2 linked regions of the Homo sapiens genome follow. The protein of the gene in region 2 purifies or fractionates together with the protein of the main gene of each other region. This does not show direct contact. Each region holds a gene or a part of one and is shown on either strand. Other genes may lie near its edges.

The links. Proteins that work in one complex are often made in the same cells at the same time.
Region 1: the proteins of C15orf40 (region 2) and CLIC2 purify together in Homo sapiens (affinity purification with mass spectrometry; one large-scale study listed by BioGRID and IntAct). This does not show direct contact.

The regions. Positions count from the first base shown.
Region 1 is NC_000023.11:155,296,615-155,300,114, forward strand, and holds part of CLIC2 (chloride intracellular channel protein 2), read right to left. Parts: intron 2,532-3,500; coding exon 2,422-2,531; intron 2,297-2,421; coding exon 2,171-2,296; intron 1-2,170. UniProt on the Homo sapiens protein: In the soluble state, catalyzes glutaredoxin-like thiol disulfide exchange reactions with reduced glutathione as electron donor. Displays weak glutathione peroxidase activity. Can insert into membranes and form chloride ion channels.
Region 2 is NC_000015.10:83,008,840-83,012,904, forward strand, and holds the start of C15orf40 (UPF0235 protein C15orf40), read right to left. Parts: upstream 2,801-4,065; 5' UTR 2,769-2,800; coding exon 2,658-2,768; exon of another isoform or gene 2,647-2,657; intron 1,525-2,646; coding exon 1,398-1,524; intron 1-1,397.

The DNA.
Region 1 (3,500 bases), on a different chromosome or scaffold from region 2:
ATCCAGAATATACAAGGAAATCAAACAACTCAACAATAAAAAAAATCTCATAAAATATGGGCAAAGGGCATGGCCAAAATGTACATAAAGAAATGCTCAACTTTACTAATCAACAGAGAAATGCAAACCAAAACCAAAATGAGATATCATCTCACCTCAGTCAGAATTGCTATTATTAAAAAGACAAAAAAAAAATTAACAGACGTTGGCAAGGATGTGGAGAAAAAGGAACTCTTATACACTGTTTTTGGGAGTATAAATATAGCCACTATGGAAAACAGCATGGAGATTTCTGAAAAAACCAAAAGTAGCACTACCATAAGATCCAAAAATCTCACTAATTGGCATTTATCCAAAGCACGAGAAATCAGTATGTCAAAGGGATACCTGCACTCTCATGTTTATTATTGCATTATTCACAATAGACAAGGTATGGAATCGATCTAAGTGTCCATCAACAGATAAATGGATAAAGAAAGTGTGGTATACATACACAATGAAATAGTATTCAGCCATAAAAGAGAATGAAATCCTGTCATTTGGAACAACATGGATGGAACTGGAGTTGTTATGTCAAGTGAAATAAGCCAGGCACAAAAAGACAAAAATAGCATGTTCTCACTTATATGTGGGAGTTAAAAAAGTTGATCACATGAAGATAGAGAATGGAAAGAGAGATAACAGAGACTGGGGAGGGTGATTGGGAGGAGAAGGGAAGATGAAGAGAAGTGTGTTAAAAAGTACACACATAAATAAGATAGAAGGAATAAATTCAATGTTTGATAGAAGAGCAGGGTGACTATAGTTACAAAAATGTATTGTATTTGGGTTATGGACACCGTAGATACCTTGACTTTATCACTATGCATTACATACACATAATAGAATTTCATATGTATCCCATAATTTGTACTGATAAAAAAATTTAAAAGAAAGTGAACCATCAGGCCAGGCGCAGTGGCTCACGCCTGTAATCCCAGCACTTTGGGAGGCCGAGGCCGGTGGATCACAAGGTCAGGAGATTGAGACCATCCTGGCTAACACGGTGAAACCTCATCTCTACTAAAATTACAAAAAAAAAAAAAAAAAATTAGCCGGGCGTGGTGGCGGGCATCTGTAGTCCCAGCTACTCGGGAGGCTGAGGCAGGAGAATGGCGTGAACCCGAGACCCGAGAGGCGGAGCTTGCAGTGAGCCAACATGTGCCACTGCCCTCCAGCCTGGGCGACAGAGCGAGACTCCGGTCTCAAAAAAAAAAAAAAAAAAAAAAAAAAGAAGGTGAACCATCAGAGAGACATTCTCCTGCAGGTTTTAGAGGAAGAGAACAATCAGCCATGTTGCGAAATGCCTATACAGAGGGGCAGCCTCTAGTAATTGAATGCCAACCCAACCCCAACAAACAGCTACCCAATAACCTAAGACCTCAGTCATATAGCTGCAAGGAACTGAATTCTGCCAAAAACTTGAATGAAGATGGAAGAGTCACCTGGGCCCCATATGATAACTGTGTTCCCGACCAACACCTTGAATGCCACTTTTTGATACCCTGAGCAGAGGACCTTAGCAGGCTATGCCCAGACAACTGACCAATGGAAGCTGTGAGATAATAAATAGCTGTTGTTTTAAGATACTAAGTTTGTGGTAATTTGTTACACAGCAATAGAAAATTAATACAGCATGCTTCTTGTTTCTAGACCTATCCTGGGTAGACAGAGATGTGCGGTTGTCATTCAAGTGTAGGCAGTACAGTTCTGGCCTCTGGTTAACTGCTTGAAGTCTATGTCCTGGCCACTAGCCCTCGTGTTGGGTATGTTCTGTCATTTCGTCAGTGGTGTTAAGGACCAGTCATGACCAATCCTTATGAATTACATAGTGTTAGTATCCCATTCCCTCACTCCCATCTCACTATATGTTCCTACTCTATTTCTAGAGCACAGAGAACTTACCTTCTTGTGTTATGTATGTTATGCAGCTTTTAAAAATTATTTGAAATATTACACATATCATCTTTTTGTATTTGAAGTTGGAGGGGTATGTTTATGCATGTGTGTCATTTGACATGTAGGCCCAGAAATCCAAAAGTACTTAAATTGGTAAGAATACTAAATCTGCAATAAACAAGCCAGTAAAATAGATTATCTTCAGCAAAATAGTATCTTGTAAATGCTGTACCTTGGAGGAGCCAGGGTTTGTTCTAAAAACTCCTCAATTTTAATGAAGTCTGTTTTCAACTCCTTGTTATACACCAGGAACGGAGGATTGGTACCTGGGGCTAAGTCCTTTAGTTCTTCAGGCTTTCTATGATTATTAAAAATAAGCAGAGTTAGGTCTCTAGATAAAGTACACATTAAATAAACACCAATATTTTATTGGTATCTACCAATCTCAATTCCTAGAATTTAACATGTCCTGATTTCTCTTACCTGGTCATGTCAACAGTTGTCACATTAAATTTAACTCCTTTAAGCCAGAGGATCATGAAAAGGCGTTGGCAAAAGGGACAGTTTCCAATACTCTCTCCATCACTTCCAGCCTATTAAGATAAAGAGAGACCTCAGTTCATTTGTTTGTTCAATAAGTATGTATTTAGTTCCTAATAGGAAATGAGCCAGTTGCTAGAGACAAACATGGACATTCTTAATCTCATGTACTCCATCATCTATGGACAGAGAGATATAGGGAAGCAAATAATCTCATTATATGTAAAGTTACAACTGTGATGGGTACATAATAATAATAATAAATTTTATATATTATCAGAATTTATATAATTTTCCTATTGATAGACATTTAAGATATTCCAAAATTATTACTACTCTAAGCACTTCAGAAACAAACATTTCTGGGCATATAGCTTCTTCCACTTCTGAGATTATATCTTTAAGGTTAATCTTTAAAATGAAAATGGTCAGTAAAATGTATGCACATTTCCCATTTTGATAGATCTTACCAAATTTCCTTTCTTTTTTTTTTATTATTATACTTTAAGTTTTAGGGTACATGTGCACATTGTGCAGGTTAGTTACATATGTATACATGTGCCATGCTGGTGCGCTGCACCCACTAACTCGTCATCTAGCATTAGGTATATCTCCTGATGTTATCCCTCCCCCCTCCCCCCACCCCACAACAGTCCCCAGAGTGTGATATTCCCCTTCCTGTGTCCATGTGATCTCATTGTTCAATTCCCACCTATGAGTGAGAATATGCGGTGTTTGGTTTTTTGTTCTTGCGATAGTTTACTGAGAATGATGATTTCCAATTTCATCCATGTCCCTACAAAGGACATGAACTCCTCATTTTCTATGGCTGCATAGTATTCCATGGTGTATATATGCCACATTTTCTGAATCCAGTCTATCATTGTTGGACATTTGGGTTGGTTCCAAGTCTTTGCTATTGTGAATAATGCCGCAATAAACATACGTGTGCATGTGTCTTTATAGCAGCATGATTTATAGTTCTTTGGGTATATACCCAGTAATGGGATGGCTGGGTCAAA
Region 2 (4,065 bases):
GAACATGATAAAAATGGCCCTACCATTACAGGAAATAAATCCAGAGAAGAAAAGTTATTGACCCAATCTTGCCGACCAAGATGGGCTTACAGAGCCCTGGGGAATATCCTGGATTTAGGCAACTGGAAATTGCCCTTGGTATGTGAAGAGCCCCAGGCAGGGAGTCATAGATGGCCTTCAGCCTCATCAATGTCACTGAAGAAGTGTATGGACAGGGCAGCTTACTAGATTGTACAAGGTTGTGCAGGGTTTCCTCAACAGGAAAATGAGAGCCCCGGACTAGGTTCACCTCTTATGTGACACATATCTTGAGTGTTTTTAAAATTTAATAATGTTTACTTAACAAATATTTACAGAGCACTTACTATACACCAATTTTAAGCACACACAAATGTGTTAAAGGCTTTACAAATACTAACTTCTTTAATCCTTATAATAACTTTATGAAGATATTAGTACCATTATTATCTCCATTTTACAAATGAGCCATGGCATCCAGCCTCCCATTTTAGATCTAATGAAACATAATACTCCAACGTAGACAGTGTCCACACCCACTACTTAGAAAATGCTGGCCAAGGAGGGTATGGCTAAGTTAACTTGGTCATCAGCATAAACCAGGTCTAGCACGTCAATGTTGTGGTTTTCCTTTCAAAATCTAAAAATGGTTTGAAATACAGAGCTTTAGAGGTGAAAAAGACCTTCAAAAGAATTTAGAGCAATGGTTTTTGAACTTTTTTTCCTTTAGAATCCCTTCCCCCAATTTTCTCCAGAATCCCAATATGTAAAACAAATGTAAACAGAGCTAGTCAGGAGCCCTGTCTGCCTGGCCTCCTCCTTGCCCAAAGCTGATTCCTGAGGCACCTCCAGCACTCCAGAGAATAGCCTGAAAGCCTCTAACTTAGTCCAACGATCTCATCTGACAGATGAAAAAACTGGACCCATGAATGTTTTATACTGTTTTGATTTAAAACAAATTCGCACAGGAACTGATCACGGGTCTCAGATCTCAAGTTTTCTCCCTCTCCTTAGGCCAGTGATCATTAAACTACACTAAAATGTCTCTTCTTTCTCTGGCCAATGTCTCCAGTTTTGGAACAGGACAAACTAAGAATAATCCAGACTACACACAAGTTTCCATAACTGTCCTTTCTAAAATACTGTATTTTTAAAGAGGAAAATATACAATGGTTTTCGTGTAACTTGGCATGATTTAAAGATATATTCACTTTAAGACACCTTTACATTAGAATCTAGAATTTTAAAATGGAGAAGCCTCTAACTGCAGATGTGAAAAATCAACTGTCATAGAATAAGCTTTCAGCTAACCAAAGCAAAGGAGGGCTGTAGGAGACACCTGATTCACACTTGAATCCCACCCCAGTGTCCAGGTATACCTGTTACAGCATTTTGTTTGGAGCCAGGTTTTGCATGGATGGCTATGGTGACGCATCCTTTAGGATCAACTGCCACAGGACCTAAGGGAGGAAGTGGTCTCTCTGGTTCCTTGCTCTGGCTTTTACCCTAAAATGACAACCACACAACTTTACAGGTTACAAAATATTTTCCCACACATTTAATTTGATTCTTCCACTACCCCCTTTCACCCTTAACAGACAAACTAGGCTCATCAGTGGTGTCCAGGGACTTCTGGCCACCTAGAAAGCTTTTCCCACAACCTTCAAGGCTCTACTCAATTTTCCCACGAAGGGTTCCCATCAACCCAACAGTGTTTTTTCCCCCCTTGCAAGAAAACCTAACTCTGGCTTCTAAACCTTAATGCTTGCTCCTCCCTCTGCTTTGTATTTCCAATTCCTTGGGGGCAGGGATCATTTATTATTCATCATTGTATCTCATGCAGTCGGAGCTAATAAATGTTGGTGAAAGTGTGTATGTCTGCATGTTGCGGGAAAGGGAGGAAAAAAAAATAGTGCTTGATATTTAAAGGCCTGTTATGGGACAGGGGCTGTGCTAGGAACTTTCGTTCAACAAATATGTAGGCAATGGATATGTAAAGATGAAAAGGTACATGGTCCTTGCTCTCAAGGAGCTCGGACTGCTGCGAGGGAGAAAGAACATACAAAATTATAATACACTGTGCTAAGTGCACCGATGAGATAGGCACAGAACATTACCCCACAGGCAAATCAGCATTGGGGCACTGGAGAATGCTGCCAGCAGGAGGCAGTGCTTGAGCTGAGTCTGAGAAACGGACTGGGGTTGGCCAAACAAAGATGGTGGAAATGGGAGTGCTGTATTCTTGACAGAAGGGGTGCGATCAGCCAAAGCAAGGGAGGAGAAAGCAGAATACAGCCTCCTGGGGAAACGCAGGTCATGCCGCTGCGGGAACATGAATTGCTGGACTGGGAGTGCGGGTAGGAGGCCAAAGGTCAGCACACGCAGCCCAAGGAGAGCTCGGCTGCCGCCGGGCCCAGCGCTCAGAAATCACCAGGTGGACGGCAGCGCAGCCTACTGAGGCGGGGCGACGGCAGCAGGCCGCAGCTCTGGGGGTGGCGGCGGCTGTCCTGAGCCCCGGAACTGAGAGACGGCAAGCCGCTGGCAGTGCCTCCACTCACTCCCGGGCCCCGCTTCTCCCGCGCTCTTCAACAAGTACCCCTGAGGCCCACCCCTCTGCCGCCACGGGACCTGCTACTGGCCTTGGTCGTCGCACCAGCCTTCTTAGGCATCTCGGCGCAAAGAAGCCGAGCGGAGCCCCGAGTATTGGGTGTTGCCCGAAGGTGCCTCAGCCCGCTGCGGAGCCGCAGCATCCCCGCCTGGGAAGGCGCCGGAAGAGCCCTCTGCGCTTGCGCAGGTAGCCGGCAGGAGCGGCCCCACCGCCCGGCGCATCCGCTCTGGCCAGAGGGCGACACCTTAAGGCCGGCGGGAGCGAGTCTCGTGGCCGCAGAACATGCGCGAGTCTCTTTTGTTCTGGAACGGGCCGAGCCCCAGGAAGTGGAGCTGCGGAGCTGAGGCCTCACCGTGTCTTGGCCCACCCTGCTCAGCTGATAGGAAGGTGTGTCACCTCTTTCCTAATCGGGGAAAGAAAGGTATTGTCACTTCTCAGAATTGGAGAGCGCGGCAAGGAGTGCACAGGGCCAGGTGTCTTCTCGCTCCCACAGCCAAGCAGCAGATGCAGAGTCCCACGCGCTGCCTGTGGCCATCAAGTCGATATAGAGCCTCGTGGCGGCTTGGCCCTTGTGAATCTTCCACGTATCGATGGCGCACCTACCTTGTGCCAGGCGCAGCGGATCCCACAATGTAAAAGAAGAGGAAATACACTGCGACATGTGATATGGAGAGACATGAAACAAATCAGCAGAGGCAAGATCATGGAGTCACTGAAGGCTTTCAAGCAAGGGATTATTAGCAGCCCAATTTGCTGGGTTTTAGAAAGACACCGGCTGCACTGTGGCCGACAGAGGAAAAGCCAGAGACAGGGAGATCCGCCCCCTAAATGGGAGAGGGTGGCCTGAACTAGAGTAACCGCAGGGAGGGTGGAGCGCTGATCATTTCAAGGATCTTCAGGAACTGAAATGATCAGAACTTGGGAATGACTGCATGTGCGAATAAGGGGGAAAAGTCAAGGAAATGCCCAGGTTTGGGGCCCAAGGAACAGGTTTGGGAGGCCGAGGTGAGGAGTTCAGCTTTGGACATAATGAGTTTGAGATGCCCACAGGACATCCAAATACAAATGTTAAAGGGGTAACTGAATATATGTGACTGGAGTTTGCGAAATCAAGGCTGGTGATAGAGATTCTGGAATCTTCTGAAAGCAGATGGCAATTGAAGCTATGGAAATGGATGAGAGAGTGTGTAAAGAGCACGAGGGCCCAGGTTAGAACAGCAAGGGCAGGTAGAGAAGTCACCAAAGGACACTGACCAGGTAGGAGTACGGTGTAACGGCAGCTAAAGAAGGGCGCTTCAAGAGGGAACATCAACAGTGATGAACACTCTGGAGAGAACATGTCACATGTAACGACTGAGAAGTGGCCACAAGATTTAGAAATCAGGGTGGTGGTGGTGACCCGGGCTACAGCAGTTTTAGTGGAGAGAAGGAAATGGAGA